Homo sapiens: one gene and its partner. The protein of the gene in region 1 binds, or shares a complex with, the protein of each later gene. Each region holds a gene or a part of one and is shown on either strand. Other genes may lie near its edges. A codon is read from its position in the direction of its gene.

What was found.
Region 2: the proteins of RAB3IL1 (region 1) and RAB8A are in contact, whole or in part, in a crystal structure (PDB 4LI0), measured with the Homo sapiens proteins. Residues at the interface, in NP_037533.2 of Homo sapiens: Arg104, Glu108, Leu111, Glu112, Thr115, Ala116, Phe119, Glu120, Ala122, His123, Arg127; in NP_005361.2 of Homo sapiens: Lys10 (codon at 7,683), Phe33 (codon at 7,752), Ser35 (codon at 7,758), Phe37 (codon at 7,764), Ile43, Asp44, Phe45, Lys46, Ile47, Gln60, Trp62, Thr72, Ile73, Thr75, Ala76, Tyr77, Arg79.

Annotation. Positions count from the first base shown.
Region 1 is NC_000011.10:61,912,743-61,924,318, reverse strand, and holds the start of RAB3IL1 (guanine nucleotide exchange factor for Rab-3A), read left to right. Parts: upstream 1-6,752; 5' UTR 6,753-6,951; coding exon 6,952-6,962; intron 6,963-11,576. UniProt on the Homo sapiens protein: Guanine nucleotide exchange factor (GEF) which may activate RAB3A, a GTPase that regulates synaptic vesicle exocytosis. Promotes the exchange of GDP to GTP, converting inactive GDP-bound Rab proteins into their active GTP-bound form.
Region 2 is NC_000019.10:16,104,247-16,116,725, forward strand, and holds the start of RAB8A (ras-related protein Rab-8A), read left to right. Parts: upstream 1-7,642; 5' UTR 7,643-7,655; coding exon 7,656-7,779; intron 7,780-12,479. UniProt on the Homo sapiens protein: The small GTPases Rab are key regulators of intracellular membrane trafficking, from the formation of transport vesicles to their fusion with membranes.

The DNA of each region.
Region 1 (11,576 bases):
TGACGACTTACTGGCAGGGGCTGTATCTCTGGGGCTGAGAGTGAGGATGGGAACTTCCTGGACAGTGAAAAGAGCAAGTTTAGCTTCCGGAGGCCTGGCTGCTAGCCCCGCTCTGTACCCAGCATGCTGTACCACCTGGGACAAGTGCCTGCCCTCTCTGGACCCCAACTGCCCTCCCTAAAAAATGGAGATGGTGGTCGAAGGAGGTCTGTTGTGAATCTTAGTGTTCTCAAAGTGCTGTCCTGGGCTGAGCCCCTCCCTGAGCCCAGACTGTCCCCGGGGCCTGGCTTCACCAGGTTGGCCTGAGCAAAGCTGTGACCCCATTCGGCCGCCTCCACACGCTCTGTCCTGCCCTTCCCTGAGGGGCCTGGGCCTGGTCTTGGTCAGGCCTGGGGACAGAGCAGGGAGCCTCCAGGCCCAAGTTTGACCTCCTGAGTCGCTTCCCCTCTCCCTGGAGCCAGAACCAGCGTCCTCTTTCCCTCCTGCTTGAAATCTGAGCTCAGAGATCCAGGGAGGACTTTGGCTGCAAAACATTCCATCCGCGCTGTCCAAACACCCTGCACAGCTGGCGGAGGGAGGGGCAGCCAGAACTGGCTTTCAGGAACCCTGGGGCTGTTGTTTTCATGGAAATGGGGGAGCCCTCACTCTGAGGACCAGCACTGGCTGACCTGAGGAAGTTCACAGGGTCAAGTGGACCAAGGAAGGGCCCACCTGCACACATGTTTTTGGGGCTTACCCAGGGCCCCTCTGCTGAGCGCCCAGCCCTGCAGGGGAAAAATCCAGTTGCTTCAAAGTCTGCCCAGCCAGGTGTGCGTGGCTGCCTTGAGCCTGCCAGCTGGGAGGTGTCTGCACCACAGGCAGGCGGATGGTGGCCTTGTGAGCCTCCCCTCGTGACTGAGCTCTATGCAGAGGCAGGGGAAGGGCAGGCAGGAATGACGCTGAGATAGCAAGAAGGGGAGGCGACTTCAGGCAGCGGCTTTTACTGACAAGACGTCCCAGACCTGGCTGCTTCTTGCTGTGACTCACAAGTGACCCTGGATGAGTCTCTGAGCCTCAGTTTCCTCATCTGCAAGAAGAGACAATCGGGCCTTTTCTGGCTCTGCCTTTTTTCTAAGAAGTTACAACCAAAGACAAGATCCTCAAAGCTTCCCATCCAGTCCAAGCTGTGTCTAAATGTCCAGAAACATAACAGGTTTTTCCATAAAGTCTCCAGCAACTCTGACTCAGTTTCCCCTCTCCCGCCCCCGGCCAAGAGGCTGGTGGGGTCTTGGCAGGGAGGGACCAACTCCCACATATGATGCCACCAGCCAGGCCAAGCCCTTTCCCCTCTTGCCATGTTGGGGTGATGGGGAGACCCCCACCCTTCACATATCCTGTTTTCCATTAATTGTTTCCAGGTAAGCCCAGAGGTTGCCCAGCAGAGGAAGGTGGGGGCACAGGAGAATTGAGCAGGGGGATCAGAGAGGAGCAAAAACAGGAAGCGGGTGGGAGCAGGCCATGGAAAATTCATTGCCAGGAAAGGGAGGACAGCATCTGGTTTGCATTAGGCTGAGAGAGCTTCGCAGCCCAAAGCCCAAGTGGGAGATACTGTTATCCGCTGGGCGGGGCGGGGCAGGGTGGGGTGTGAGGAACTGGCAGCTTCTCCCCAGCAGGGACTCAGAGGCTAACCAGAAAGAAGAGGGAAGTACAGGCAGGAGGACGGGGCAGGAAACACTGAAGGAAGGAAACACTTCTTTCAGTCTACACTGTGGCAGACACTTCACAAATGTTATCTTCTTCTTCTTTTTTTTTTTTCCAAGACGGAGTTTGGCTCTTGTTGCCCAGGCTGGAGTGCAATGGTGGGATCTCAGCTCACCGCAACCTCTGCCTCCTGGGTTCAAGCGATTCTCCTGCCTCAGCCTCCCAAGTAGCTGGGATTACAGGCATGCGCCACCACCCCCGGCTAATTTTGTATTTTTAGTAGAGATGGGGTTTCTCCATGTTGGTCAGGCTGGTCTCAAACTCCCAACCTCAGAGATGATCCACTCGCCTCGGCCTCCTAAAGTGCTGGGATTACAGGCGTGAGCCAACGCCCCCAGCTGTCTTCTTTTTTTAAACTTTTTTTTTTTTTGAGACGGAGTCTCGCTTTGCCACCCAGGCTGGAATGCAGTGGCGTGATCTCGGCTCACTGCAAGCTCTGCCTCCCAGATTCACGCCATTCTCCTGCCTCAGCCTCCCGAGTAGCTGGGACTACAGGCGCCCGCCACCACGCCTGGCTAATTTTTTGTATTTTTAGTAGAGACGGGTTTTTTTTTAAATAATAGAGATGAGGTCTCGGTTTGTTGCCTAGGGTGGTCTCCTGGGCTCAAGCGATCCTCCCACCTCGGCCTCCCAAAGTGCTGGGATTACAGGCATGAGCCACCGCACCTGGCCACAAATGTTATCTGCTTTAATACTCACTATTTCACAGGGGAGAACTTCCCATTTTATATAGATGAGGAAACTGAGTCCCAGAGAGGTTAAGTGACTTGCCTAAGGCCACACAGTCAGCGAGTGGCAGAACTAGGATGAGAATTTGGGCCAAATGAAGACAGGGTGGCACATTCACACCATCCCACAGGTGGATGGAGTCTGTGTACCAGGCAAGGTGACACTGAGAAGGGTGACGAGGATGGCCCAGCCTCTGCCCAGAGGGCCACTCAGTTCTTGTGGGAGTGTCCAACAGTTCCAGGGGGTGTTTGTCATGACGCAGGGCTAACCATGTGTCTAAGGGCTCTGGTGCCTGCAGAGGAAAAAAGTAACCCACAGGGGAGGGCTTCCTAGAGGAGGGGGTATGAACAAAAGAGAAACTTACTAGCAGAGGCAGGATGCAGTGGAGATAGCAGTCAGGGGGGATAGTATGTGGAAAGAAGAGGAATGGGCACATCTGGGCAATGGCAACTGGCCTGGTGTGCTTTGGAGGGTGAGAATCCATTTCATAGTTGGAGAAACTGAGGCACGGAGAGGCTAACGTGCTCAAAGGCACACCGTCTGAAAGTGGGGTTGAATCCAGCCCGTCTGACCCCGGGCCTGTGTTCCCAGCTGCTACCGCTGAGTTGTTCCTGGGCGGTGGTGGTGAGAAGTTTTAAGGGTAGTGAGACCCCATCTCTCCAAAAAATAAAAAAAATTTAAAAATTAGCCAAGCATGGTGACACATGCCTGGAGTCCCAGCTGCTCAGGAGGCTGAGGTGGGAGGATGGCTTGAGCTGGGCAGTTTGAGGCTGCCCTCCAGCCTGGGTGACGGAGCGAGACCCTGCCTTGAAAAATTAAAAACAAACAAAAAACAAAACTGGGAATCTCAAATCTAAGAAAAAGAATTTAAAAATAAAGAAAAAAAATAAAAAATAACAGTTTTTTGTTTGTTTGTTTTGTTTTTTGAGACGGAGTTTTGCTCTTGTTGCCCAGGCTGGAGTGCAATGGCCCAGTCTCAGCTCACCGCAACCTCCGCCTCCCGGGTTCAAGCAATTCTCCTGCCTCAGGCTCCCGAGTAGCTGAGATTACAGGCATGCGCCACCATGCCCGGCTAATTTTGTATTTTTAGTAGAGACAGGGTTTCACCATGTTGGTCAGGCTGGTCTTGAACTGCTGACTTCAGGTCATCCGCCCGCCTCAGCCTCCCAAAGTGCTGGGATTACAGGCGTGAGCCTCCGCGCCCCACCAATAACAAAGTTTTAAGGGGATATTCAGGTTTGTGGTCACAGGCAGGAGGGCCTGTCTAGGGCTACACAGCCAGCTATGACAGCTATGACAGGATCAAGGCTGGACGGGCTCTTTCCAACACCCCAGCCTGCGTGGTGAGGGGACAAGCGGACCATCTGGGAGCCTGGCTGAAACACGGGGCCTCCCCTAGAGGTGTCTCACCTCCCCTGGCCCAGAGCCCAGGAAGGAGGGCCCAGTGTCTTCTGCTGCCTGAGGAGCCACAGGAGTTAATAATTACGGGGTTGAAGGAGATAGCGGCTGTCCTGGGAGGTGGTGCCTCCCTCCCAGGCTGCTGCTCTGGGGAGATAGCAAAGGTTAGTGTGAGGCTCAGCCTGGTGGGGGGAAGAAGGCTCCTGCTACCTCCCTTCCCGGCACCCTCCAGAGGGACCCTCAGTCTGGCCTTGCAAGCATGGACTCTTCTGAGGAGCACGCTGGGTGCCCCGCCCGAGGGACATGTCCCGTGTTCCTGGCCATGAGTGCAGGGACTGTCCGCTACGCCCCATCAGGCCTGTGCCCTGTACTTGAGGGGAACTTGAGAGAAGAGCCCTGGGGCACAGACAGGTGAGCTCAGGACCTGGGGCATGGAGGGGAGGGGGAGTCTTGGCAAGCTTCAGGGCAGCCAGTGTGAGAAGCTGGGCTCAGAGAGTCCTAGGCAATGGCTCTGATTGTCTTGTCCAATTTGGTGGCTGTACAGAGGTGGAGACTGAAGCTCAGAGAGGGCAAGACACTCATCCTGGGTCACACAGTGAGCTGAGGACACACCTGTAAGTCCAGAATCAGGGCCTGGGTTGTCCAGGCTGACTGTCTCCTGCTCCTCAGCTGCCTTCAGCCAAGGGTCTGTGGTCAAGGCTGCCAGGCTTGGGATGGAGCAGGCAGAGGGAGATAGAGGGAGGGAGGCTGAGGAGGGCAGTGGCTTGTAGGCAGAGGACACAACTTTTATTTATCCCTTCCCTGCCACTGGCCAGACACCTAGCATGTGCTCAGGAACCTCTTGCTGCCTGGCTGCACACAGCTGCAGCTGCCAGTGAGCCTCTAGTTTCTGGGTGGTCTTTTTGGAAAACGGGTGTAAGAGGACTCAGCCCCACTGCCCCTGGCTGGTGTGATATCAGGCAGGTTCCTTAACTTCTCCGAGCCCATCCTTTTCAACTGAGGAGCAAGTTCAGCTGAGCAGGAGGGTCCTCCCTACTGGGGGAGGCAGTGAGCCCTAGGAGTCCATGGTAGCAGGAAGCATGGATGACAGGCTATTTTTGGTTAGAAATTGAGTGTGGATGCTTCCAGAGTGGTGACCACAGACTTGTCCTTCAAGACCTCGCTCAAGGGCCTCCCCGGTCCACCAGACCTCCCAGGCTGAGGACTCTTCCTCCAGGGACATAGCCCTGAGCTGACGCCTCCTCCACCCTTTATCTCCCACTGGTCTGGGTTGCCATGACTTATCTCCTGCCGGGGCTTGTGAAGACTTGGAGGGCAAGGGCCCTGTGCTGGGTTCCTTTTGTGTCATTTTCTCCTCCTTCTCTAAATAGTGAACAAAATAAGGGCCAGGAAGACAACAGTTGCTCAAGACCAACTGATGAGGGATTCAAGCCAGCAAACACATGTGGACATCTGCTTTGGGTGGGCCAGACCCTGAGCTGGGCTGGGGGTGGGGTAGGGGAACATAGCTCCAAGAAAGAGAGAATCCCTGCCCTCTGGAAGCCGTGGCCATGGAAACAACTGCCCTGCTGAGTGATGGCTATGGGACGCCTGGGCTGAATGATTCTAGAAAGTTGGAAGGGATGCTATGGAGAACTGCCTAGGTTGTTCACTGCACAAAGTGCTGGCCAAGGGAGCAAGCAAGGCATAGAATCCAGCCTCGCCTCCACTCTCCAGATTCCATACCTTGCTGTGCGCTGTGCCCAGCGGGGAAAGAGCATTGTCTATTTGTGCCCTGGACGTGGAGGTCTTAGAGAATACGTCCCCCATCCTCCATCCTCCACCAACGTGGAGCCCCAGGAGGGCAGAACCTATGTCTGTACAGTTTCCTGCTGGGTCCCCAGCCCCTTGCATGCCCCATAGTCTATGCTCAGATGGAGTGGCTGAATGTATGAATGAGTAGAATGAATGAATAAAATGTATCCTCAAACGAAGATCTGACTAACTTGAGCCTGCGGCCTGAGTCAGTGGGCCTGGAGGGGTAGCACTGGGACCTCTGGTAGCACCTAGAAGGGGAAGTACCTCCCACCACGCTCCCAGTCCTCCCCTAGACAGGGAAGGTGGGAGCCATGGTACCTGGCGGGAGAGAAGACGGGTTCTGCTCTTACTGGTCCAGTCCCAGGCTGAAGTTGAGACGAATGATCAGGACTCAGAATGGGTGGGACAGAGGAACTGAGGGACAGGTAGACCAGTCGTCTGGGATTCAGGGAAGGTTTCACGGAGGATGTGGGACCAGACAGGTGTGTGTATGTGTGTGTGTCGGTGGGGGTGGGGTGGGGAATACTATCCAGAGGGCAGATGGTGAGTAAAGGCAGGGATGGGCAGAGCGTGTTAAGTGGCAGGAGGCTGAGTGAGGAGAGTTGGACCAGAAGTGGAAACTCCTTCGGGATAAAACTCAGAGAGTAGGACTCAGAAAACTTGTTTCGGGTTTGTCCCCTCCCCTTCCCAGCAGGCAGGATGTTGCACAGGGACAGGCACTAAGCAGACAGCCTAGGGAAGGAGGGCCGGGTGAGGAGGGGGGAGGGTGTCTGCTGGCCTTAAGTGACAATCTGTGTGAGAATCGAAGAGCTGAGAGCTCGGGAGCCATTGTAGGTTCTTGAGCAGGGGTGGCCCAAAGTGGGTGGTGCGGAGGGCGACTGGAGAGGAGGAGTCAGCTGGGGAGTCTGAGCGCGGCGCGGCCCGCGGGATGTTGGGGGCCGGGTTCCCTCCGAGCGCCGTGGTCTCCCTGTCCCGGCGCGGCGGGCCGGGTGGGGCCAGGCCTTGGGAGCGCGCGCCGGATCCCAGCGCCGGGCCGGCGGAGGGGCGGGGCCGGGCACGTGTCCTCGGGCCGCTCCCCCCTCCGCCACGTGACCCGCCCAGGGCAGGGTCGGGGCTGGGCTGGGGGCCGCGAGCCCAGGCGTCTGAGACCTACTGACCGGCCGCGGGCAGGGCTGACAGGCGGTGGGGCGGCTCGGCCCCTGGCGGAGTCGGCGGCGGGCGGGGACGCGGCGCTGGGAGGACGCGGCGGCGCTGGGAACGGACGCCTGGGCGCCCCGAGGCGCCGGGATGTGGAGCGGGTAGGTCCGCGCGCGCTCGCGGTCCCGCGCTGGGTCTGGGCCGCGGTCGCCTCCCGGGACGGGAGGATTTCGGGGGTCCCCGCCGGGTCTGCGCCGCCACCCGGAGGTGCTGTGCGCCCCCGCCCTGCCTGCAGGCGAGCCGACTTGCAGCCAGGAGACTCCGGGGGAGGGGTCGGGGGTGTCTCTCGGGGTGCAGGGTGCGAAGGGTGGGCAGCCGACCGTCCCGGGGTGACAGCGTCAACTCCTCTTAGCTCATCAGGAGCGCAAGTGAGAAGAGTTGGGGTGTGGGGAAGAGTGTGCACGACTCTGGGGCATGCACCTAGAGGAAGGACCCCCAGCCCACCCTCCCAACCTGTCCCTCAACCCCTTCGCTGGATGAACTCTTGGAAAGCAGTGTAGCTGGGAAAGAGGGGCTGGGTCTTTGCCAGGGTGGCTCCCAAGTTGAGGGCAGAACCTCCTTGTGGGGCTCTGGAAGTACGGAGGCTCTCAGAGGTGTGGAGTGGGAACCCCCCCCGCCCCGGCCCCGCAGCCTGGAGTGGGGTAGCAGAGACTCTGGGTCCTGGATTAGTGGCCCCAGTGGCTGTGTCTGTTCAGGCCACTGGTTCTCAGGGGCAGTTGCAGTTCCTGGCCCATCTGATGTGGGACCCCTGCCCTGTATGTGCAGAAAGGTTGTGGTGTTTTTGTGGAGTTGGGCAAACACTTCCTCTTCCCCGTGGCCGGGAAAGACCAGGTCGTGGAGGAAATGTGGCCAGAATGGGGGACAGGTTGTACTCCTGTGCCCCCTGGGCCAGATGAGTGGTCCCAGGAGAGGGCTACTGCCCAGCTACAGCTGGGGAGTGAGGGAAGCCCCCCGGAAAGGCAGGCAGGATCCACTTCACTCCATGGCACCTAGCAAAGGTTGAGCTGCGATGCTAGGGGAGGGATGGCCTTTCATCCCCAGCAGGGGGTGTGGAGAGAGTGGGCTCCTGTTAGGGGTGAGGTGTGGAGAGGCTTGGGACTTTTTTTTTTTTTGAGACGGAGTCTTGCTCTGTCACCCAGGCTGGAGTGCAGTGGCGAGATCTCAGCTCACTGCAACCTCCGCTGCCTGAGTACAAGCAATTCGCCTGACTCAGCCTCCTGAGTAGCTGCGACTACAGGCACACACCACCACACCCGGCTAATTTTTGTATTTTTAGTAGAGACGGGGTTTCACAATATTGATCAGGCTGGTCTCGAACTCCTGACCTCAGGTGATCCACCAGCCTCAGCCTCCCAAAGTGCTAGGATTACAGGCTTTTACCACCACGCCCTGCCCTAAGACTTGAGACTCTTTTTTTTTTTTTTTTGAGACAGAGTGTCACTCTGTCGCCCAGGCTGGAGTGCAGTGGCGCGGCTCAGTGCAAGCTCCACCTCCCAGGTTCACACCAGTCTCCTGCCTTAGCTTCCCGAGTAGCTGGGACTACAGGCGCCCGCCACCACGCCCAGCTAATTTTTTTGTGTTTTTAGTAGAGACAGGGTTTCACCATGTTAGCAAGGATGGTCTCGATCTCCTGACCTTGTGATCCGCCCGCCTCAGCCTCCCAAAGTGCTGGGATTACAGGTGTGAGCCACTGCACCCGGCCTGGGCTTGAGACTCTTAAAGGGAGAGAGTTGAAGGCCACTAGTGTATTTGTTGGCATTGTGCTTGGAGGAAGGAGGCTGGCTTAGGAGAAAGTGCTTGAGGTGGGTTTGTGGTACCTGGAGAGGTTAGGGCAGTCCTGCCCGGGGTGAATTGTGTTTGGGGAGCAGCCTCGTCTGCCGGAAGCCTGTGTCTTGTGCCGGCTGGGTGGACTCAGGCAACACAGCCCCTGAGTTAGTTGCTGTGTGACCTTGAGAGTGTGGACTTCCTTCTCTGGGCCTCTAGGTAAAATAAATGGTTTCTGGGGTGGGAGTGATCGCAGGTCAGAGAATGTCCTTCCCTGGAGGCACCCAGGCCAAGGCCAGACACAGCTGAGAGCCACCAGTAGATGGATGGTTGCTTCAAGGAGAGTCAGAGAGCCTTATATCCTGGGCAGGGACCCCTCCCCACCATCCAGCCCCCCTGCCATATTCCCAGCAACACTCTGGATGAGCCAGCTGCCAGGCTGACCCCCACAGAATCCTCAGTATGGCTCACTTCCTGCATGCACCCCTGCACCCCCAGGGGCCTAGCTGGGTGCTGAGCTCATATCATAATGGGTGCTTCATAAATGCAGATGGAAAGGATGAGGGGCAGTGAGAAGCTGGCGGAAGGGGTGAGGCAGAGCTTGGGGGTTACCTTGAGCTCTGTATTTTTATGGCCCCCCATTTGGGTGAGGAAACAGGGATTTAGAGTCAGGGGCCAAGCTGCTAGCCCCCACTGGGTGCCTGGTGTCCTAGGAGCTCACCCAGACCCCAGCAGCAGTTGGGAGGTGTCCTGTTCAGAGTCATACTTGCCAGGTTACTCTGACCAAGTCTGATGACAGCTCTGGCAGGTGTATATTTGGGACTGTTGATCCTAGAACAGGAGGAGCTGGGATTAGGAGTTGGTGACCCCAGCGGGGCCAGTGATGTTTCTGGGCTTCGTTTCCTCACCTGTGAAATGAACTGAGATCTTTCTCTTGGTGGCTGTGCTTTGTTAATGGCCAGGTCCTGGTCATGGCTCCAGCCCTGGGCTACTCTTCTGGGGTGGGCGGCAGTGGCTGGACTCTGCCACAGCCTGGGTGGGTCCTCTTCTTTGGGACTCCTGAGCATGGGCCCTGAACTCCAAACCCAGAGGCAGCTCCAGTCTGACTTTAGGTGCCCCTCCAAACTGGGTTGTCCCCCTTCCGATTCCCCACAGTTTCACACATTCATAGTTTTGGGTGCCAAGCCTGCTCCAAGGTGACGAGGTGAGGACAGCGTCTTGAGTACTTCTGTATCTAACATGGTGCTGGACACTTGGGACTTGGTCAGCAGAAGCCAGCGTTCAAGTTTCTGCATGACACTGTTCCAGCCCCCTGGTCTCAGTTTCCCCAGAGACGGGGCTCATCATACCTATGGCTAGAGAGGGCCAGGCATTGATGGATGGCCCAGGAATGAGATGAGACCACTCCAACCTCCCAGGGGTTGGGGAGCATGTTTTTGCGGCAGGCAGGGCTGTAGGGGCCATCAACTGGCTGTGTGATCCTGAGCAAGTCACTTCACTGCCCTGGGCCTTGGCTATTCTAAGGGCATGGATCTGTGGGCTCCTGCCTGTAAGGCCCAAGTCACAGGGGACTAGAGGCCGTGAGACAAGAGTCTGAAGTATGGCCCGAGGGCTCCAGGTCAGGCACACAGGCCTCTTCATTGGGAAGGGGTTGTATAACCCTCACTGTTGCTGCTCCCTGGAAGCCCTCCGTGATCTAACTGCCTACTCTACCCCTCAACAGGTGGAGATCTTTCCTGCTGTTCCTTAATCAGGACATGGGTGTTGGGGGCAGACATCCTCATTAGAATCCTGCTTGTCCTAGACCCTCCGAGCTCTGCACATGATTTATGCCCAATAGGTCTTTGGAAATGAGGTAGCGGGAGGGAGATGCAAATCAAAATAGGATATGGTAAGAAGGGGGCTGCCTGGTCGTGCAGATTGGATGGATCATGGCTGGTGGGGTGCCTGGCACATAATGGGTGCTCAGTATACACACTAGCTATTGGAGGTCTTCGGTGTCAATTCTTGGACTGAATGGGCAGGGTCGCCACAGGCGCATTTGAGGATGTACTGCGTGCCCAGCCCTGTAGAAGAGTAGTGAGATGCGCCCCCTCCTAGGCCCTGTGCTGGCTCCCATGGAGAGACAGGGCTGGATTCCCCCGCCAGGGGTGGGCTGGACTGGCCTGGTGGCCTGGGGCTATGGCCGGCGGAGGCGTGGCCTGACTCACCTGCTTTAGGTGTTCTGATCTGCTTCCCATCCCCAGCTGTTCCTGACCTTCTCCCCCACTCCTCCTCCATGGTCTCTACTAGGACATGCTGTTGTGCCCTTCTCCCTACTCTGGCTCCCCTTCCCCTGTGGCCCAGGCCCACCTTGGTTCCCACCTGTCCCTTTGTCCCCTCCTTGACTTGAGCTCATTGGTTCCTGGCCCAATTCAGTGAGACTCATGACGATCTCTTTCATCCCCGGGTCCCAGACACTCTTCGGCTCTGGTGTCCAACACTCTCGTCCTTTCTGGCTCTCAAGCCCTTGTCCTCCCTGACAGCCCCTCATCCAGGCTCAGGCTGCAGCTGCTCCCCGAAACCAGTGCCACTCGACAGCGTCACCCCATCCTGCCTATTCCCCCTCAGCTGCCTACGGGACGTGCCACTTCCCAGATGCCTCAGCCACCCACTTTCCTGTCCCTGAAAGACCCCCTCCCAGTTCCTCACTCCCAGCATGGGTACCGCTGTTCTCAGCTTTCACCTTTTCCTTAGTTTTGAATTATCTTAATTATTGTTATTGCTTTTTCCTGCCCCCCCATCCAGCCCCTGTTCCTCCCACAATTCCCCCTTCCCATCTTTGTTTCTGTGTGTCCCCTCTGCTGTCCCCTCTTAGCCCAGGTCCTGCCTGGCTGTACAGCATTCTTGGGTGGCACCTCCAGTACTTGGGCGCTGTCTCAGACTTCCTCAAACCCCATCTGCCTCTTGCC
Region 2 (12,479 bases), on another chromosome or scaffold:
GAGGCTGAGGCAGGAGAATCACTTGAACCCAGGAGGTAGAGGTTGCAGTGAGCTGAGATCATGCCACTGCCCTTCAGCCTAGGCAACAGAGCAAGACTCTTGTCTCCAAAAATAAAAAATAAAGACTAAAAAGACTGGAAGAGGCCAGGTGCAGTGGCTCCCACCTGTAATCCCAGCACTTTGAGAGGCCGAGATGGGCAGATCACGAGGTCAGGAGATTGAGACCATCCTGGCTAACAGGGTGAAACCCCATCTCTACTAAAAATACAAAAAATTAACCGGGCATGGTGGCACGCACCTGTAATCCCAGCTACTCGGGAGGCTGAGGCAGGAGAATCGCTTGAACCCAGGAGGCGGAGGTTGCAGTGAGCCAAGATCACACCACTGCACTCCAGACTGGGCCACAGAGCAAGACTCCACCTAAAAAAAAAAAAAAAGACTGGAGGAAACAAGTCAAGCAATACATTAGGAAAATCCACTTAGCATTCATCTTCAAGAAGGTCTAGCATTGGGGTGGACTAAGGCAGGAAGCCCAGTTAGGAAAAGGTTTCAATAATCCAGTACAGGTTGCCATGGAATACGAGGGAAGAAGTGATTCGAAGGAAGTAATCTTAAAATTTAGCTCGCTGGATGGCAGAGAACTTAGAACAGAATGTCAAAGACCACTACAGTTTCACTACCTGAATTTTGATATTTTGCCTCAAGATCTTCTTTTGAGGAGGGGAGGCAGTGAATCAGAAAGAGAAATGAAAGCCTTTAAAACATTAATGGAGTCTGCAGACAACTTTCTGTTATCGAAAAAATAACAAGCCGGGCGCTGTGGCTCACACTTGTAATCCCAGCACTTTGGGAAGCCAAGGTGGGCAGATCATCTGAGGTCACAGACAGGCAGATCACCTGAGGTCAGGAGTTGGAGACCACCCTGGCCGACATGGTGAAACCCTGTCTCTACTAAAAATACAAAAATTAGCCAGGCGTGGTGGCACACGTCTGTAATCCCAGCTACTTGGGAGGCTGAGACAGGAGAATTGCTTGAACCCAAGAGGCAGAGGTGGCAGTGAACCAAGATTGCGCCACTGCACTCCAGCTTGGGCAACAGATCAAGACTCTGTCTCAAAAATAAAATAACAGGCCGGGCACGGTGGCTCACGCTTGTAATCCCAGCCCTTTGGGAGGCCAAGGCGGGCGGATCATCTGAGGTTGGGAGTTCGAGACCAGCCTGACCAATATGGAGAAACCCCATCTCTACCAAAAATACAAAATTAGCCAGGTGTGGTGGCGCATGCCTGTGATCCCAGCTACTCGGGAGGCTGAGGCAGGAGAATCGCTTGAACCTGGGAGGCGGAGGTTGCCGTGAGCTGAGATCCTGCCACTGCACTCCAGCCTTGGCAACAAGAGCAAAACTCTGTCTCAAAAAAAACAGCAGGCAGAGACAGGGGAGGATAACGAGCCCAGCCAGGGGTTCAAGACCTGCTTGGGCAATATAGCGAGATCCCATTCTCCAAAAATAAATTAATAAAAAATAAATAACTGGCTGAGCACGGTGGCTGACATCTGTAATCCCAACATTTTGGGAGGCCGAGGTGGGCAGATCACTTGAATTCAGGAGTTTGAGACCAGCCTGGCCAACATGGTGAAACCCCGTCTCCACTAAAAATATAAAAATTAGCTGAGTGTGGTAGTGGGTGCCTATAATCAGCTACTCAGGAGGCTGAGGCAGGAGAATCATTTGAACCTGGGAGGTGGAAGCTGCAGTGAGCTGAGATCGCGCCACTGCAATCCAGCCTGAGTGACAGACTCTGTCTTTAAATAAATAAATAAAATAAATAACCGAAAATGTAGTTATAATAAAAGTATACAATTAAAGCATTTCCTTTAGGCCAATCCAACCTTTAATGGGCACTGGGCTGATTCAGATGGTTGGTGCAGAGAATGTGAATGAATAAAGTCACACCCTCCAATAAAGGCCCTGCCATGATTTGACCACAGTTCCTCCTTTGTGTGTCTGTTTCTCCCTCCTCCCTCCCCACTTGGGTTGTAATCTCATCTCGGGATGCTGTTTTAGTCATGCTTATGGCCTCAGCACTTCACACTTCACTGTGTTCAACGGACCTGTCCCAACTTTTGGGGAGTTCCCAATGCCATGAAGTATGGCTGGAACACAGCATGAGGTCAGAACCAGACTGTGAGGGATTTCAAACGCTAAGAGGAAGATTTTGGACTTTATCCTGCCCAGAGACCACAGATGGCTATTAAAGGAAGTGGTTTTTTTGTTTGTTTGTTTGTTTGTTTTGCTTTTTGAGACAGGATTCCACTCTTGTCACCCAGGCTGGAGGGCAGTGGCGTGATCATGGCTCACAGCAGCCTCGACCTCCTGGGCTCAAGCAATCCTCCCATCTCCACCTCCCGAGTAGCTGGGACGACAGATGTGTACCCAGCTAATTTTTGTATTTTTAATAGAGACAGGGTTTCGCCATGTTGCCCAGGCTGGTCTGAAATGCCAGACCTCAAGTAACCTGGTTGCCTCAGCCTCCCCAAGTGCTGGGATTACAGGCATGAGCCACCGTGCCCAGCCTAAAGTATTTTAGAATAAGCACACTGCAGGGTGGAATCTGGGTTAGAGAAAATGGTCAGGGAGACCAGTGGAGAAATGTAATGATTCCACTGTGGCAATGGAAATGGAAGAATGCAATTCAAGAGCTATTTGTTTTTTTATTTTTTATTTTTGAGACAGAGTCTTGCTCTGTCACCCAGGCTGGAGTGCAGTGGTGCAATCTTGGCTCATTGCAACCTCCGCCTCCCGGATTCAAGCCATTCTCCTGCATCAGCCTCCTGAGTAGCTGGAATTACAGATGCCCACCACACCCGGCTAATTTTTTTAATTTTTAGGAAAAACGGGGTTTTACCATGTTACCCAGGCTGGTCTCAAATTTCTAACTCAGGTGATCCACCCACCTCGGCCTCCCAAAGTGCTGGGATTACAGGCATGAGCCACCGCGCCCGGCCCTCAAGAGCTATTTAGAACCTCCTTAAAAACCAGAATGTGACGGATGAGAGATGAAAGGCAGATGTCAAAGACAGCTTAAGTTTCACTCCTAAGGAAAATCAGGACAAGCCAGTCTGGGTATTGGCTGATGGGTTCAGTTGTGAACATGCTGAGCTAGGAGTATCTGACAAATCCAAAGGGAGATGTCCTGAACGCAGGTGGATGTGAAGAGATGGCTGGGCTAAGGATAAAACACTGAGAATGGTCAGCATGGATTAGGAGCCCCCAGAAAGTGAGAACAGAGACAGAACAACGAGGACCACAAACACTAAGGGACAGGCAGAACCCACCCCTCCCCCACCTCAAAAAGACTTCAATGGGGTCTGAGGAAAAAACAAACAAACAAAGAAGGGGAGGCAGAGGCAGAGGTGGTAGGGAGAAGAAACCAGCAAATAAAATAGGGACAGGGCCGGGCACAGTGGCTTATGCCTGTGATCCCAGCACTTTGAGGGGATCACTTGATGTCAGGAGTTCAAGACCAGCCTGGCCAACATGGTGAAACCCTGTCTCTACTAAAAATAACAAAAATTAGCCGAGCGTGGTGGCACGTGCCTGTAATCCCAGATACTCGGGAGGCTGAGGCAGAAGAATCGCTTGAACCCGGCGGGCAGAGGTTGCAGTGAGCCGAGATCATGCCACTTTACTCCGGCCTGGGTGAAAGAGCGAGACTCCATCTCAAAAAAAAAAAAAAGGGGGATAGGGGCCAAGCGTGGTGGCTCACACCTGTAATCCCAGCACTTTGGGAGGCCGAAGTGGGCAGATCACCTGAGCTCAGGAGTTCGAGACCAGCCTGGCCAATGTGGTGAAATCCCATCTCTACTAAAAATACAAAAATTAGCCAGATGTGGTGGTGGGCCCCTGTAATCCCAGCTACTTAGGAGGCTGAGACAGGAGAATCACTGGAACCCGGGAGGCAGAGGTTGCAGTGAGCTGAGATCGTGCCACTGCACTCCGGCCTAGGCAACAAAGAGTGAAACTCCATCTCAAAAAAAAAAATAATAATGGTATAGGGCCAGGCATGGTGGCTCATACCTGTGATCCCAGCTTTTTGGGAGGTGGAGGCTGGAGGATCTCTTGAGCCCAGGAGTTTGAGACCAGCCTGGGCAACATAGGGAGACCCCATTTCTACAAAAAATAAAAAAATTAGCCTGCCATAGTAGCGTGCAGATGTAGTCCCAGCTACTTGGGAGGCTGAGGTGGGAGGATGGCTTGAGCCCAGGAATTCCAGACCAGCCTGGGTAACATAGCAAGACCCCATCTCTACAAAAAATAAAAATTAGCCATGCGTGGTGGTGCATGCCAGTAGTTCCAGCTACTCTGGAGGCTGAGGTGGGAGAATCACTGGAGCCTGGGAGGCGGAGGTTGCAGTGAGTGAAATCACACCATTGCTCTCCAGCCTGGGCCACAGAACAAGACCCTGTCTCAAAAATAAGTAAATAAATGAGGATAATACCAAGAAAAAAGAATATTCAGAGGTGATCAAGACTATCAAATACCACAGAGGCTGAGGCCTGTAGGTGGTCAATGCCTCTGGTTGAAGCTTTTTTAACCAGAGCTAGATTAGCAGAAGAATGAGCTGAAGTGGAAGGGAGGAGGAAAGGCTGGGCCCTCCTTCCACAGATCCTTAAGTAAGCCTCAAGGCCCCGGAGGCCCCAGAGTGACCTAGAACAGACTGGACCATCTCTAAGAAGCAGGGAGCCCTAGTGATCAAACTGCGGCCTGGGAAGCTTGGCACTCTGAGTTCAGATACCAAATTCCCACTTTTAAGCAGGAAGGGGGAAAAGTCACTTAACCTCCTCTGGCTTCAGTTTTCTCACCATTAAACAGGAAAAAAACAATAACATCGTTTTGCTGGGCTGGTACTGGGATTAAAATTTTAAGAGTCAGGGGCCGGGTGCAGGGGCTCACGCCTGTAATCCCAGTACTTTGGGAGGTGGAGGCAGGCGGATCACGAGGTCAGGAGTTCGAGACCAGCCTGGCCAACACAGTGAAACCCCATCTCTACTAAAAATACAAAAAAATACACCACACCAGGCGTGGTGGTGGGTGCCTGGAATCCAAGCTACTTGGGAGGCTGAGGCAGGAGAATCGCCTGAACCCGGGAGGCAGAGGTTGCAGTGAGCCAAGATCGCGCCATTGCACTCCAGCCCTGGTGACCGTGAGAGACTCCATCTCAGAAAAAAAAAAAAGTCAGGGTCTTGCTCCGTCGCCCAGGCTGGAGTGCAATGGTGCGATCACAGCTCACTGCTGCCTTGACCTCCTGGGCTCAAGGGATCCTCCCACCTTAGCCTCCTGAGTAGCTGGGACTACAAGCATACACCACCATACCTGGCTAATTTTTTAAAAAAATTTTTTGTTTTTTGAGATGGAGCCTTGCTCTGTCACCCAGGCTGGAATGCAGTGACACAATCTCGGCTCACTGCAACCTCCGCCTCCCAGATTCAAGCAATTCTGGTGCCTCAGCCGCCTGAGTAGCTGGGACTACAGGCGCACATGACCACACCTGCCTAGTTTCTGTATTTTTAGCAGAGATGGTGTTTTACCATGTTGGCCAGGCTGGTCTGGAACTCCTGACCTCAGGTGATCCACCTGCCTTGGCCTCCCAAAGTGCTGGGATTACAGGTGTGAACCACCTCGCCTGGCCAAAAAACTTTTTTTTTTTTGCAGAGATGGAGGTCTTGCTATGTTGCCCAGGCTGGTCTCCACCTCCTGGCCTCCAATGAACCTCCACCTCAGCCTCCCAAAGTGCTGGGATTACAAGCGTGCACCATGACGCCCAGCTAATTTTATTTGTTGTAGAGATGGGGATCTCCCTATCTTGTCCGGGCTGGTCTTGACCTCCTAAGCTCAAGCAATCCTCCTGCCTCCCAAAGTGCTGACTCCCAAAGTGCTGGGATTACAGGCCTGAGCCACCACACCCAGCTGCAAGCCCGATTTTCCAAATGTATCTCTCCTCTGTTTTTCTCTTTCTTTTTTTTTTTTTTTTTTTTTTTGAGACGTAGTCTCATTCTGTCGCCCAGACTGGAGTGCAGTGGCGCGATCTCGGTTCACTGCAGGCTCCGCCTCCCGGGTTCACACCATTCTCCTGCCTCAGCCTCCCGAGTAGCTGGGACTACAGGCGCCCGCCACTACTCCCGGGTAATTTTTTGTGTTTTTAGTAGAGACGGGGTTTCACCGCGTTAGCCAGGATGGTCTCGATCTCCTGACCTCCTGATCCGCCCGCCTCGGCCTCCCAAAGTGCGGGATTACAGGCCTGAGCCACCGCGCCCAGCCTTTTTTTCTTTTGATAGGGTCTTGCTCTGTCGCCCAGGCCGAATTGCAGTGGGGCGATCACGGCTTACTGCACCCTCAACCTCCTGGCTTCCCAAAGCACTGGGATCACAGACGGGAGCCAACGCCCCGGCCAGTTTTTTCAACGTTGAGAGCCCTGGCCCCTAGATAGGACCCAGCATCCTCACTGCTCTAACCCCTCCCCCCCCACCATCCCCGGGCTGGCCCGGACAACCCCTAAGGTGGCCGAGGGCGGGCCCTGAGGAGGCCGGCGCGCGCTTCCGGGCACAGCTTGTGGCGGTGAAGCCGCTCAGATGGCGGAGGCCTTGGGTATCTCTAAGCAGATCGCTAGGCCGCAGACCTCGGAGCTCGTCTTGGGTCACTTTTATTTATTTTTTTTGAGACGGAGTCTCTCTCTGTCGCCCACGCTGCAGTGCAATGGCGCGATCTCGGCTCACTGCAAGCTCCGCCTCCCAGATTCAAGCAATTCTCTGCCTCAGCCTCCCGAGTGGCTGGGATTACAGGCGCCCGCCACCACGCCCGGCTAATTTTTGTATTTTTAGTAGAAACGGGGTTTCACCATCTTGGCCAGGCTGGTCTTGAACTCCTGACCTCGTGATCCACGCGCCTCGGCTTCCCAAAGTGTGGGAATTAAAGGCGTGAACCACCGCGTCCGGCTTGGGTCACTTTTCGAGTATACAGCTCCTCCTCTCTCCTTCCTCCCTAGGCCCCCACTGCCCCGACTCGCAGGCCGCAGACAAGGCTGAGAGCGCTACCTTGCTTTCCCGCGCTCGCCTCGGTGCCTACTGCGCCTGCGCGAGCTGTGAGGGCGGGACCCAGAGACACCCGCCCCAACTACTGGCGTGCGCCCTCTGCTGTCGCCTAACGGAACTCCGGGCGCGCGTGCGCACGCACCCCAAGCCACGCCCCGCCAGGCTGCCGGCGCGCGAGCGGTTGGCGCCGCTCCCTGCCTTCCCTCTCCTACAGTGGGGCGGGGCCGGGCCGCCCGAGTCGGGGGTGGAAGGCGGGGGCCACATAATGCCACGCCCCCGCCTCGTCCCCATTTGAAGCCCCGCGACTCTTCACTGCTGGTCAATCAGAGCCCGTGCTCTCCCTAGTGCCGGCCAATGGGAGGTGCGCTCGGGCTGCTTCCGGCTCCGCGCTCCGCTCGCCCCCTCCCAAGGTCTCCCCGCGACTGGCGGGACGCAGGGGCGGGCGTCGGCCGCGGTGACGCGCAGCGGGCCTGGAGCCAATAAGGGGCGGGCTCGGTGCTGATGGACGGTGCTGGTGGCCAGTGGAGAGGCGCTGGCCGCACTTCCCGTCGGGGAGAGAGTGTAATATGGCGAAGACCTACGATTACCTGTTCAAGCTGCTGCTGATCGGGGACTCGGGGGTGGGGAAGACCTGTGTCCTGTTCCGCTTCTCCGAGGACGCCTTCAACTCCACTTTTATCTCCACCATAGGTAACGGGACCGGGGAATGGCTGGGGGCGCCGGAGGCCCGGGCTGGGCGCGCCCCTGAGGGGCTGGGGCTGAGGGATCTACAGGGCTGGACGGGCCGAGGGCGCTGAGAGGGTCGAGGGGGCCTAAAGGGAGAAGAGCAGTCGCCTGCACCGCCGTTCGGGGGTTCCTGGGCCGTGGTGGGGGAGACCAGGTGCCCATTTTGCAGATAGGGAGACTGAGGCTCCGACCCTCAGCCCGCTCGTTAGGGCGTGTTATGTCTTGGGCTGGGGTCTTCGCGCCCGTCCTCTCGATCTGTCCTAGCAGCAGCCCTCGAAGCGGTTCTTTTGAGGCTCTTGCCTTACAGAAGTGGAAACTGAGTCATGGGGAATTGGCCATGGGAAAAAGACAGTGGCATCTCACCTTAATGAGCATTTACTATGTGCCAAGTGCTTCACGTGCATTTTCACACTCTTCAGTTCTTGGTGTTAAGTGCTGTTATGAGCCCGTCTGACAAGATGAGGAATCTGAGGCTCAGGGAGGGCATGGAACTTGCCCAAGGCCACACAGTCTGCACGTGGTGAGAATGGGATTTGATGGAATTTGAACCTGGCTGTGTCTCAACCCAAAACTCGAGGCTTAGCTCTCCTAGAGAGATGCCACTGCACACTCCCAGCTGATGACAAGCTCAGCTAATGCACCTTGGAGCCGGGACTCTAACCCACACCATTCCTGCTCTTTTCTCTGGAGCGTTCAGAGGTTGAGCCCCTCTCCCTGACCATGCTTCCCCTCATAAGCGTATTTTCCTCTAGAAGGAATGATAAGAAGAGTCAGGACCTTTTCCCTGCCCACCTTTCATCCTGCTCCAGGAATGACAGCAATGGCAAGTGACAGCACTGCCTGCCCTGGGACCTGTCATCCCCAAGAAGATGCAAGATAAAAGCCTCAGCGAGAAACTAAATCAGCCACTGCCACAGACAGCCTTGACTTCCCTATCAAAGGGCCCAAGACTCCAGCTGTCACTTTAGAACAGCTTTTCCTGTAGGGCCAGCCCACATTGTGGTTGAACAGAATTGGCTTGGTGCATCTCAGTTGTGATGTCCACAGAAGTGGAGCTGACCTCTCTCAGTGCCACAAAAGCAGTCCTGGCCCACAATGAAAAGGTTTGACCCAGGAGTAACACCTATTTGAGTGGCTTGTGAGCTCTGTAGCCCTGCTAGGGATGGGGAAAGTGGGGGAACGGTCACTAAGTCCAGGAGTTTATTCCGACTCAAGAAAACCTAGGGAATGGCCTTTGCTTTACTGTGTCACTTTGACAGAATCGTGTTATCTCCCTGAACCCCAAGATAATGTGCTAATTCCATTCTTGCCCTCCTCCAGGAGCTATGCTTTATTTATTTTATTTTATTTTATTTTTTGAGACGGAGTCTAGCTCTTTTGCCCAGGCTGGAATCCAGCGGCAGGATCTCGGGTCACTACAACCTCTGCCTCCCGGGTTCAAGCAATTCTCCTGCCTCAGCCTCCCTAGTAGCTGGGATTATAGGCACCCGCCACCACGTCCAGCTAATTTTTGTATTTTTAGTAAATACAGGGTTTCACTGTGTTGGTCAGGCTGGTCTCGAACTCCTGACCTTGTGATCTGCCTGCCTTGGCATCCCAAAGTGCTGGGATTACAAGCATGAGCCACCGCACCCAGCGGAGCTGTGCTTTATAAAACAGTTATATGCCAGATGTAAAATAGAGAGAATTGACTGGAAATCATTACGTCTGGTTTCCAGTTGCTGTTTGCCCTTGAATGTGCACTACCCCTCTCTGAGCCCTGCTGTCTTTAGAGCAGGAGTGACACTGTCTGCCCAGCCTAGTGCCCTGGTGGTTGAGGATTAGAATTAGACAATAAGGGGTTGTCACCACAACCAGAGGCTATCTAGAGGAAGCAAATGAATGGCTCCTGCAGTGACAGCATCCAGCCTCTGAAGACAGATGTTTCTGAATTCTTCCCCCTCCCCCACTCCAAGGCTAAACTTTAGGGTAATTCTTGTGCTCCAACCAATCAAGAAGTGGCGTTAATTCAGCCTGGGCAACATGGCAAACCCCATCTCTACAAAAAATAAAATAAAATCAGCCGGGCACAGTGGCTCACCCATGTAGACCCAGCCACTTGGGAGGCCAAGGTGGGAGGATCGATTGAGCCCAGGAGGTCAAGGTGCAGTGAGCTGTGATGGTGTCACTGCACTCCAGCCTGGGCAACAGAGCGAGACCCTGTCTTAAAAAATAATAATAAAAATAAAAGAAAGAAAGAAATGATGTTAACTGTGAGCAGACTGGCTTGCATTCACTCAGATCCCAGTTTCCCAGCCTTCCCCACAAACCCCCCTCTTTTTTTTTTTTTTTTTTTGAGACAGTCTCTCTTTGTCACCCAGTCTGGAGTGCAGTGGCGCGATCTCGGCTCACTGCAACTTCCACCTCCCAGGTTCCAGCGATTCTCCTGTCTCAGCCTCCCAAGTAGCTGGGATTACAAGCACCTGCCACCATGCCCAGCTAATTTTTGTATTTTTTTTTTTTTTTTTTTAGTAGAGATGGGGTTTCACCATGTTGGCCAGGCTGGTCTCGAACTCCTGACCTCGTGACCGCCCACCTTGGCCTCCCAAAGTGCTGGGATTACAAGCATGAGCCACCGCGCCCAGCCCAACCCCCCTCTTTAGAGTTACTTTGAGCTTTAAAGAGGCTTTCTTCCATTTGCAGATGAGGATGTGACTTGGTGAAAGTTACCTAGCAAGGTGGAGGTGGCACCTGACCCTAAGATCCCTCCCTCCCACCCCTTCATTCCCCTCCTTCCATTTGTAGCCTTCTGTCTTCTAGGAAAGTCTAATTCACCATGACCTTGAAGGTCAGACCTCATAATTCTTAGGCCTCATAAAGTTTACACTTCCTAATTAAATTTGGCATGTTAATAAAACCCAGAGGAGTGTAGGGCGGAGTGCTGCTGTGGAGCTTGGCCAACCTAACAGTGCTCCTCGATTTTTTGTGTCCCTGTACACGTGTGACAGGAAATGGGGAATGTTTTAGGAAGCCCAGGCACACTGGGCTGTCTAGTCCTGAAGCAGTATCACCTTAATGCTTAAAGGTGATTCCATAAATTAGCCATACGTGGTGGCGCTTGCCTGTATTCCCAGCTACTCAGGAGGCTGAGGCAGGAGAATCGCTTGAATCCAGGAGGCAGAGGTTGCAGTGAGCCAAGATTGTGCCAGTGCACTCCAGCCTGGGCAACAGAGCAAAACTCTGTCTCCAAAAAAAAAAAGAAGCAATTCTATATTGGCTGAGTGTACCTCTGGGTTTTCTTTATAGACAAGGATTGAGTGGCTATTCATTTTCTGCCACTCAATCCTTAACATTTTGCCAAAAGTTACATTTCATCAAAGCCTATTCTCAGAAGCCCCATAGATCATTTGTGGTGTGAACTTGGCCCTGTAGCTCCCTGGAATGGGTTCTCACCAGCCTGGCTCGGCGCCACTGCCTCCTCAGGGGCCCATTGATTCCTCCAGTGAAAGGGTTGGCATTTGAGAAAGTGCTTTGTGAACCGCTCAACACCGCGTAGACCCTGTTGCGCTTTAATACTTTGATCCAGCCATATTTTGCCAGTGTCTTCTGTGGGCCAGGCAGCCATTTTGGCAAGAGGGCTGCAGAAAGGACACAGGTGAGTCAAGGTGCGTGCAGGACTGGGGTACCAGCTTCTAGCAAATGTGTATTCAACCCCTGTGTGTTCAGTCACTGGAGGTAATAGCAGTGGATGAGACTTGTCAGTTCCCTGCCCCAGGGAGCTTACGTTTGAGAGGGCGAAAGTCCAGTGCTGGGGCTGGATGGATGGAATTAGCATCCCCACCCTGGGTTCAGAGAGGCCCAGCCAGGCCTGGGCCTCAAGTCTTCCCCAGCAGGCACTTGAACAAACTCCTGGTGGCAAAGGCTGGGTCTGGCTGTTTCTCATCTACATGGGCCATTATGATCTGCAAGCATTATGCCCAGGTCCATGCAGCAGATACATACATGTATGTCAGTTATGTTAATAAATAGGTAAAGGGAGAACTGATGAGGATGGTCAGAAAGGTTCCCCTGAGGAGGGAACTTGAATGGGAACCTGAACAAAGGGATAGCCAGGTAGCTACAGAAGAAAGAACTTTCCAGGGCAGGGAAGAGCAAACATCAAAGCCCCGAGTCAGGAGCATGCTTGGAATGTTGAGGAAATCGCTGTGTGGATGGTGTGGCCAGAGAGAGCAGGTCATGAGCCAGAGTGCTGAGAGGTGACCAGGTTAGGCAGGACCTTGACACACATGAGCAGCTGTTTCCACTTTATTCGAGGGAAGTGGGGCAGGGAAGCCACTGAAAGAGGCTTTAAAAAAAAATAGCTTTATGAGATAGAATTCGCATACAGTTCACCCATTTGCAGTGTACAATTCAGTGGCTTTGGGTACATTCACAGAGTTCCACAACCATCACCACAGGCAATTTGGGAACATTTTTATTATGCCAAAAAGACACCAACCCAAGGCCAGGCACGCACGGTGGCACAGTGGCTCACGCCTGTAATCCCAGTACTTTGGGAGGCTGAGGTGGGCAGATCACGAGGTCAAGAGATCGAGAACAGCCTGGCCAACATGGTGAAACCCTGTCTCTACTAAAAATAGAAAAATTAGCTGGGCATGGTGGCGCGTGCCGGCAGTCCCAGCTAC